Linked DNA regions of Homo sapiens: region 2 is linked to region 1. Evidence: fine-mapped expression QTL. A gene starts in region 1. The other region holds a variant in brackets. All regions are shown on one strand. Distances are between the middles of the regions.

Region 1 (4,391 bases):
GTTTAGGAAAGACACCCCTCCAAGCAGTGGCCTGTTTTAAATCCGTAGGCCTCTCTTCCTACCACTCACTTCTTGGCCCAACCCCCCTTCACATTCCTCTGCTTGGGAAGATATTGGGGCAAAAAAGGCCTCATACATTTTTTATTAAGAAACCATTTTCTCTCTAGGATGGGCACAAGGTGCAGGGCTATTTCCTTACATTAGAAGGTATTTTAAAACCTGGGCTGGAGACGCCATGCTGTAAATTTAAAATAAAAAAAAAATGTAAGCCGAACCTTCTTTTTAACCTTAAGAATAGTCTTCACTATTCTCCACCACCTTCCCACCGGCTGTGTAGAAATAACGACCACCAAATGAGAATAGGCTATTTACTCAGAGCTGGCAAGAGTCAGCCGCGACCCATCACTTGATTTAACAGACTCATAGGCAGGCAGGGGAGTGGAAAAGCTTTACATATACTGAAAAAAGGGAGAAACTTCAGGTTGGCTCTGATTGGAGGATGTTGGCATCGGGAAGTTGGAGGAGGGCTATACTAGAAGCAGGGCTTCTTACGCGATTGGTGTGAGGAGCACATTTGGCTTTCTCTGATTGGCCCAGAGCTGGAAGCAGGGGCAAGAAATAGGGAAGCTGCCGGTTAAAGATTAAGTCCTGACCCTTCTGGCCGATTACTGAAGAGGTTATGGGTAGGAGGTCATGGTTAGGTTTGGCCATTCTTTGTATATTCAGTCTCTCAATTGGGTGAGGATTAGATTTTGTTTCTCTTGACCTAGCTAGCTTTTAGCTCCAAAGTTTTGTTTAACTTGGAAGAAGACAGCAGTTCTATTATTTCTGTCAAGGATAAACACAGACATTGGGATCTGAAAAGTATTATGGGAACATACATAAATATCTTCATAGTGAGGGTCAGGCCGGAGAGTCACCCTTTGCCTTAAGCTTCTCCATTTCCTTACTGAATTCCTATTTCTATTATAACTGACGCTTCACTAGCTTCCCTCCCTTTAGTGGAGGGCCCGGCCTCCTCCGCCCCTACTTTCTTCAGTCTTGCCCTTCGAGGGCAGGAGAAGACGGTTGCGCCCTACTAACTCTTCACCTTACAGTCCAGCTTCTCCCCCCACCACCCCGGTGCGCTCTCTCGGTTTGCTACCCTCTCCACCAGGCCTCCCCACTCCACCTGCGCAACGCCCCCAGCTCCGTGCTCTCCGGAGTAATCCCCCCTCAGTCGCACTCTCACAGCCCGGCCCCTGCCCCCGCCTCACCCCCAGTTGTGCCTTCACCTCCCGGTTCCTCCTAGACAGGTCCCCCAAGATACGCCCTCACAGTCCGGTCCCCCGCCGTCCTCTCCCGGCGCACGCTCAAGTCCGGTGCCTTCCCCCCGCAGACCCCCGAGGCGCACCCTCAAGCTCGGTGCCTCTGCGCCCCCCGCAGGGGCGCCCTCAAGCCTGGTACCCTTCACATGAGAGCCCCCCGGGCGCACCCTCAAGCTCGGTGTACCCCCCCATACCACCCGCAGGCGCGCCCTCATGCCCGAAGACTTCCCCCGCCCAGGTGCACCCTCAAGCCCGGTGCCTTCCCCCACAACCAGCGCCCCCAGGCGCACCCTCAAGCCCGGAGCCTACCCGCCGCCAGGCGCGCCCTACAGGCTCGCCCCGTCCCACCGCGCAGCGCCCCCCGCGCACTCTCTGGAGTCCTCCCTCCTGCCTGGTGCGGCCTCCGGGCCCGGTCGGCCCCCCTTCCTGCCCCCACACTCAGACGCGCGCCCGGCGTCTCCGGGTCGCTAGTTCCGCGCCTTCCTGCATGGAGGCGCGCCCCGAGAGGCTCGGACGCGGCCCCTTAGGCCCGGCATCAGCCTCCCCGGCCAGCTGGAGAAGTCAGGTCAGCTTCCTGTCCCCGAGCAGCTGCCCGGGGGCCAGTTTTCAAAACATATCCTTAGTCATGTAATAAAGAGATGTTCCTCTGGTCTCAACTCCCGATTTTTACTTTGGAGGGGCGAAGGCAGGCCTACCCTTGCCAGCCACCATTTCTCAATCACGTCGCGGCTGTGGAAAAGCAGCCGTCCTGTCCCTTCAGAAAGGAACTCGTATTTCCCCCTCGAACTTTTCTCGTCGGTGTGAGAGAAGGGCCCTCCATTTTCTCCTCAGGAAGCTTTCGCGGCCCGACTTCCTCTCACCACCAGGCCAGGAAGGCAGTGACGCCGCGGCGAATATAGCCGCGGCGGCCGAGGTTTCGCCATCTTGAGTGGAGGAGGAGCCGCGGTCGCCGCCATGCGGAGAGGCAGGGAAAGAGGGAGGAGGCGGCGGGCGGGCGAACGGGCGAGCGAGGGAGGGGGCAGAGGAGCCGAGTTAGCTCAGCCAGGCGGCGACTTCGGCGGCGCCACGAGAGCGGGCAGCGGAGGAGGTAGGGCTGGACAGCCGGGGGAGCCGGCGGCTCGGGCGGCTGGCCTGCGCGCCCCTCGGAGCGGGGCGGGGGCGGGGGCGAGAGGAGGCCGTAGCGAGAGGGCTGGGTGGGGGCGGGCGGAGGTTTCCGAGGAGGAAGGAGCGTCCGCCATTTTGGGAGCTTCGAGTCAACAATAAAGGACCGAGGGTGCCGAGCGGGAGTGGCCTCGTTGGTAGGACACGGGCCCGAGTCGCGAGGCTTGGGGTGAGGTGGTGGGGTCGAGGTCAGCGGTGCTTTGGGGGCTGTGGGGAGCCCCCCGGGCCGGCTCTGGGGGACTCTCGGGCGGAGGCCTAAGGCCTGGCCGGGCCTGGGGAGGAAGGCGGTCGGCAGCTGTGTGGGGTGGGAGCGCCTGAGAGGAGGCGAATATAGGAATGTGGTGCGCAGCAGGGTCGGCAGGAGGAACAGGCTAAGTACTCGGAGTAGCTTTATCGAAGATGAGGGAATATGAGGCCGAAGGGGGCGGCAAGGACTTAGGGGGATGATGGTGGAGGTTATAGGGTACGAGGCGGCCCTATAGGGGGCGGCAGGGACATGCTGTATTGGAGGGCTCGGTTTAGAAGCAAACCGGCCGCTGCTTGATTGCAGTAGGCCTTGCGGGTCAATAACAAGAGGGTATTTATGGAGCCCCCGACTCTTGGAGGAAAGGAGGGGGATTTCTGGTTTAGGGGGTCCATTTGGGGCCTCCTTGGGGGAGTCCCTATTGTTTGCTACTAATGGAGCGGTTGCTGGCTCATATTGCGCAGATAAGATTGCAGAGCCCCAACCTTTTGTGTTTATGGTCAGAAGTGTGTGTGTTTGGGGCGTGGGGCGGGGTGCGGGGGGACAAGAAATTTCCTTTCAGTTACGGGGTTCCAGTCATTAGTCAATGACTCTTTCCCGTATCTCTCTCCTTTCTCTTCCTCAGCCCCCATTTCCCTTCAGAATAAAACCCAGTCACTCCAACTTGCAGGCAAAGCTAGAAAAACTGCGCTGCATTTGCAAACAAAAGCTCTTGTTGGCGATGACGATACTGTTTTGGGTGTGAAACTGTCAATTGCTAACTACGATCTGTGAAGTGCTGTAATTAACTCCGCTAGGGGCTCCTCCCAACTAGTCTACGTTTCTTGTTGTTTGTTTTTTGTTTTTTTGTTTTTTGTTTTTGAAAATGTAGAAAACTTGCAAATCTAAATTGGGAAGGGGTAGGAGGAATATTTCCTTCTCTGAGAAAAAGCTGCAGTGCAGGTTTCAGTTTAAGAAGGGAGCAGTTATCACATAGTCTCATTTTGGATTTAAGGATATAGGAGGTCTTACTGTGCATGATGGACAGTAATGATGATATCGTTCGGTCTTTAGAGGTTGCCCTTTTCATCCTCTTAGTGCTCTGCAAACAGCTAAGTCTCTGTGAACTGCGTGATATCGCTGATCATAATATAAAACCGTCAATACAGGAAAGTAGCTGTTAACCATATCTGCTTAAGAGGTCAGAGTCTGAAGTAAACAGCTTTGTGTATGTGATAATCAGGATTTGCTTGTGAGCAACTTGTTCATTTTTTTTTTAAGGAAGGCATAATCAAGGAGCATTTTCTTCATAAATGTTGAGATCTGTTGACTTTAAAATTTTGAGTTTCACATGCCTTGGTGTATGGCAGAAAGAATCAGCACTCGTAAGCTAGTGTATTTTATATAAGAAATGTAACGGGGTTGCTGGGAGCGGTGGCTCACACCTGTAATCCCAGCACTTTGGGAGGCCAAGACAGGCGGATCAGCTGAGGTCAGGAGTTCGATACTAGCCTGGCCAACATGGCAAAACCCCGTCTCTACTAAAAATAGAAAAAATTTAGCTGCGCGTGGTGGCAGGCGCCTGTAATCCCAGCTACTCGGGAGGCTGAGACAGGGGAATCGCTTGAACCCAGGAGGCGGCGGTTGCAGTGAGCCAAGATTGTGCCACTGCACTCCAACCTGGGCGGCAGAGCGAGACT
Region 2 (4,391 bases), 50 kb before region 1:
CTCATTTTTACTTAAAAAACAAAAATTAGCTGGGTGTTTTGGGGCATGCCTGTTGTCCCAGCTAATCGGGGGGGTTCATTTTTGCCTTTTTTTTTTTTTGAGACAGAGTCTCGCTGTGTCTCCCATGCTGGAGTGCAGTGGCATAGTCTTGGCTCACTGCAACCTCCACCTCCCAGGTTCAAGCGATTCTCCTGCCTCAGCCTCCCGAGTATCTGGGATTACAGGCGCCTGCCACCACACCTGGCTAATTTTTTGTATTTTTAGTAGAGATGGAGTTTCACCGTGTTGGCCAGGCTGGTCTCGAACTCCTGACCTGGTGATCCACTGCCTCAGCCTCCCAAAGTGCTGGGATTATAGGCCTGAGTCACCATGCTGGGATTACAGGCGTGAGCCACCATGCCCAGCCCTTAATGTTATTTTTATGTTTGATAACGGCATTGTGGTTATGTAAGATAATGTCATTCTTAGGAGTTGGGGTTTAAATATTTAGGGGTGAAACTTCAAATGGCTTTGCATTTGTTTATTTGTATTACATATCTAGTGAATACAACAAAATGTTCAATCGTTGAATCTAGGTGGTGGATCTGCAGATGTTTCAACCTTTCAGTTATGTTTGACATTTTTTAATAATAAAGTAACAGGGAAAATAAAAGACTCCTCTCGATTCTTACCTTCTCTGGAAGGCTTTCCTACCCACCTCCTGTTACTGCTTTAAAGTCTGTGCTGTCCATCCTTTTTCTTTCCAAGGTATAGCTCTGTGGCATATATCATACTGTACTTTAATTTCTTGTTTTCTGGTCTCTCTGTAAACTTTGAAGTCCTTAAAGGGCAACATGCTCTCTTTCATCTGTAACTGTCCAGCATTTATTCCTGTACCTGGCACAGGATTGGGTGACTCATTCATCCTCGTTCAGTCAAGAACAGAAGAAAGTCTAATTTAGGAATTTTCTTCAGGGCTACCAATTCAAGTGACTCCAAGAAGAGCAACGGTTTGAGGTTTTTAATTTTTGTTTCACATTATAGAAGTGATGCTTGCAAATTAAAATACTTTTAAAACAAACTAAAAAGTAGAGTTATTTCATTCCTGTCATATACACACTTGTTAGAGTTGAGTTTACCATGTATCCTTCCAGAACTATATCTATGCAATTATAAACACACACACGCAAAACACTACTATAAATGTTGTCTGGAGACTTACTTTTTAAAAATCTAATAATATATTATGGAGCTTACCATATTTGTATATAAATAGATCTGCATCATTCTTTACACAGGCTATGTAGTAATTGTATGGCTGTGCATTGATTTTGTTTCACTACTGCATTTGAATAAGCGTATAGGTAGAGAAGCAGTCTCTACATGAAATGGCTAACCCAGACAAAAAGGGATTTGGCAACCACTAGCCCAGACAAAAAGGGATTTAGCCTTGAACTGTGGGTACAAAGTCAGTGTAAACTGGCAAGGAAGGGAATTTACCAAACGTTTCAGCTTACAGAGTCCTGGTCTGTTCAAGAAACAAAATAGAGATCATGGAAGAGAAAGAACCAAGTATGAAATTGAATGGAGCCAACTGACAAGTGTGAGACCTGTAATCACCTAATTTGTGTATGCCGTTACCTTCCTACTATATGAGCATAGTCCCTGCACCCTGAGGCAGCCAAGACATGACACAGCCTCTAGGAACAAGTGAAAGTGGCAAGTGTATGGGCCCTGGTTCATCTTGGACGAGAAAGTCCCACTGGCTTCCCAATGACAACAGAAAGTTACCCAAGCAAGTGTGGGTGAAATCCCACTAATGTTTCTAGAGCCAGCCAGTCTCATCATGGGTGCCCCCACTGCTTTCGCTTTCCCCAGCCACTTCTTACGCACGAAAACACGCCTCTTCTGCTGGGAAGCCCTCCCTCCTTTCTGAGAGTCCTCACCCACCCCAACTATCCAATCTCATTTCCCTCTTAGTTTCTTTTCTTTCTTTCTTTCTTTTTTTCAGACAGAGTCTCTGTCACTCAGGATGGGATGCAGTGGCATAATCTCAGCTCTCTGTAACCTCCACCTCCTGGTTTGAAGTGATTCTCCTGCCTCAGCCTCCCGAGTAGTTAGGATTACAGGCGTGTCCCACCAAGCCTGGCTAACTTTTGTATTTTGGGTAGAGATGCGGTTTTACCATGTTAGCCAGACTGGTCTTGAATTCCTGGCCTCAAGTGATCCACCCTCCTTGGCCTCTGAAAGTGCTGGGATTACAAGCATGAGACACCACGCCCGGCCTTATTTCCCTCTTAGTTTCTTTTTCTTTTCTTTTTTTTTTTTTGAGA[C/T]GGCGTTTCGCTCTTTTTGCCCAGGCTGGGTGCAATGGCACGATCTTGGCTCACCGCAACCTCCGCCTCCTGGGTTCAAGCGATTCTCCTGCCTCAGCCTCCCGAGTAACTGGGATCATAGGCATGCGCCACCACCCCAGCTAATTTTGTATTTTTAGTAGAGACGGGGTTTCTCCATGTTGGTCAGGCTGGTCTTGAACTCCTGACCTCAGGTGATCCACCTGCCTCGGCCTCCCAAAGTGCTGGGATTACAGGCGTGAGCCACTGCGCCCGGTTCCTTCTTAGTTTCTAATACCCATCCTGTTAGCTCAGACTGTTACTGTGTCAACAAAATGATGATGGAGCGCATTGAGACTATTAAAATGGGTTGTATAATCATTGCATGCCTATATCAAAACATCTCATGTATCCCATAAATATATACACCTACTATGTACCCACAAAAATTAAAATTAAAAATTTATTTAAACAATTAAAACTTTTTTTAAAAAAGAGTTGTAATATCCTGATGGTGTTGCCCACTCCAAAACATAGCATGAACCCATCCCTGTCAATTCGCCTTCACTGCCATGTCAGAAGTATGTGCTCATGGCCCTGTCTGCTGCTAAGCACAGGCATTTCTGCAAGTAAAATAAATAGTAATGAGTTTATATGCACAGTTTGCTTTATATAAATCCAATGAGTGGTGATCCAAGAAGTAACAAATTTTGGTAAATACAAAAATTGGGAATTTTAATCTGGGATTCTGTATAGTGTTAGGAGAGCTCAATGTTAGATTATTTGAATGCTAGTCAATAATGCTCATTGGCAATTTTTATTTTATTTATTTATTTATTTATTTATTTATTTATTTATTTATTTTTGAGATGGATCTTGCTCTGTCGCCCAGGCTGGAGTGCAGTGGCGCGATCTCGGCTCACTGCAAGCTCTGCCTCCTGGGTTCACGCCATTCTCCTGCCTCAGCCTCCCGAGTAGCTGGGACTACAGGCACCCGCCACCACGCCCGGCTAATTTTTTGTATTTTTAGTAGAGACGGGGTTTCACGGGGTTAGCCAGGATGGTCTCGATCTCTTGACCTTGTGATCCGCCCGCCTCAGCCTCCCAAAGGGCTGGGATTACAGGCGTGAGCCACCGCGCCCAGCCTGCATGTTTATGTTTTTTATTTTAAGAATGTTAACTTTTTTGGCTGGGCACAGTGACTCATGCCTTTAATTCCAGCACTTTGGGAGGGAGGTTGAGGCGGGAGAATCGCTCGAACCCACAAGGCAGAGGTTGCAGTGAGCTGAGATCGCAACACTGCACTCCAGCCTAGGTGACAGAGAGAGACCATGTCTCAAAAAAATTTAAAAATTAAAAAAAGTCTTTTTCTTTGACAATCTTGCATACTAACATTTAAAACATTAAATAAAGTGTTATGAAAATACGGAATAGTTTTTAATATCAAGAATTTCTGAGAATTCCTGGGAATTTCTATTTTATTCCCAAATCCTAAAAATTGGCCATAAAATGATAATTTGAAGCCATTGATGGGTATTTTGGGTGCTATAATATAACCGTGTCTATTCTCATATAAGTTAAAAAAAAGTTTTTTTTCAGTCGGAGTCTCACTCTGTTGCCCAGGCTGGAGTGCAGTGGCACGATTTTGCCTCACTGCAACCTCTGCCCCCCTGCTTCATGTGATTCTCGTACCTCAGCCTCCTGAGTAGCTGGGATTACAGGTGCCTGCTGACACATCAGGCTAATTTTTTCATTTTTACTAGAGACAGGATTTCACCATGTTGGCCAGCTGGTTTCAAACTCCTGACCTCAACTGATTTGCCTGCCTTGGCCTCCCGAAGTGCTAGGGTTACAGGCATGAGCCACTGCCTATGTTTAAATTTTTCCAAACCAAAACTGGATCATTTGGGCTACATTCCTGCACAAACTACTTTGATGACTTTCTAGCACCCCTAGGATAAAAGCCAACCTCTTTGTGCCCTTTAAAGCTTGCATAATTTTGACCTGTTCACCCTCCAGCTCCAACTCTCACTCTCCTACTGCTTTCCAGTGACATCAGCCTTCTCTCAGTTCCTCAAACTC

Alleles and levels. Alleles are on the strand shown, and positions count from the first base shown. SD is a standard deviation of normalised expression in the study named.
As copies of C replace T in region 2, the expression in monocytes of the gene that starts at base 2,328 in region 1 goes up (moderate effect, 0.41 SD a copy in Quach 2016).

Evidence for each region. PIP is the estimated chance that this variant, and not a neighbour inherited with it, causes the effect. A credible set is the group of variants that fine-mapping cannot tell apart.
Region 2: its variant is the best candidate, but not a certain one, in a credible set for the expression of DDX6 in monocytes (Quach 2016, PIP 0.59).

The regions. Positions count from the first base shown.
Region 1 is chr11:118,789,101-118,793,491 of GRCh38, reverse strand. It overlaps DDX6 (DEAD-box helicase 6), which reads left to right and starts at 2,328. Exons shown (of 14, transcript NM_004397.6): 1 at 2,328-2,394. RefSeq lists enhancers at 443-552, 941-1,496, 2,113-2,222, 3,533-3,712, 3,171-3,728 and silencers at 1,553-1,842, 2,293-2,622, 3,253-3,332.
Region 2 is chr11:118,839,043-118,843,433 of GRCh38, reverse strand. No RefSeq gene overlaps it. Among named protein-coding and RNA genes, the nearest start is that of CXCR5, 43 kb to the left of the region's middle. RefSeq lists enhancers at 1,893-1,942, 4,036-4,145. The variant C/T (reference allele first, on the strand shown) is at 2,313.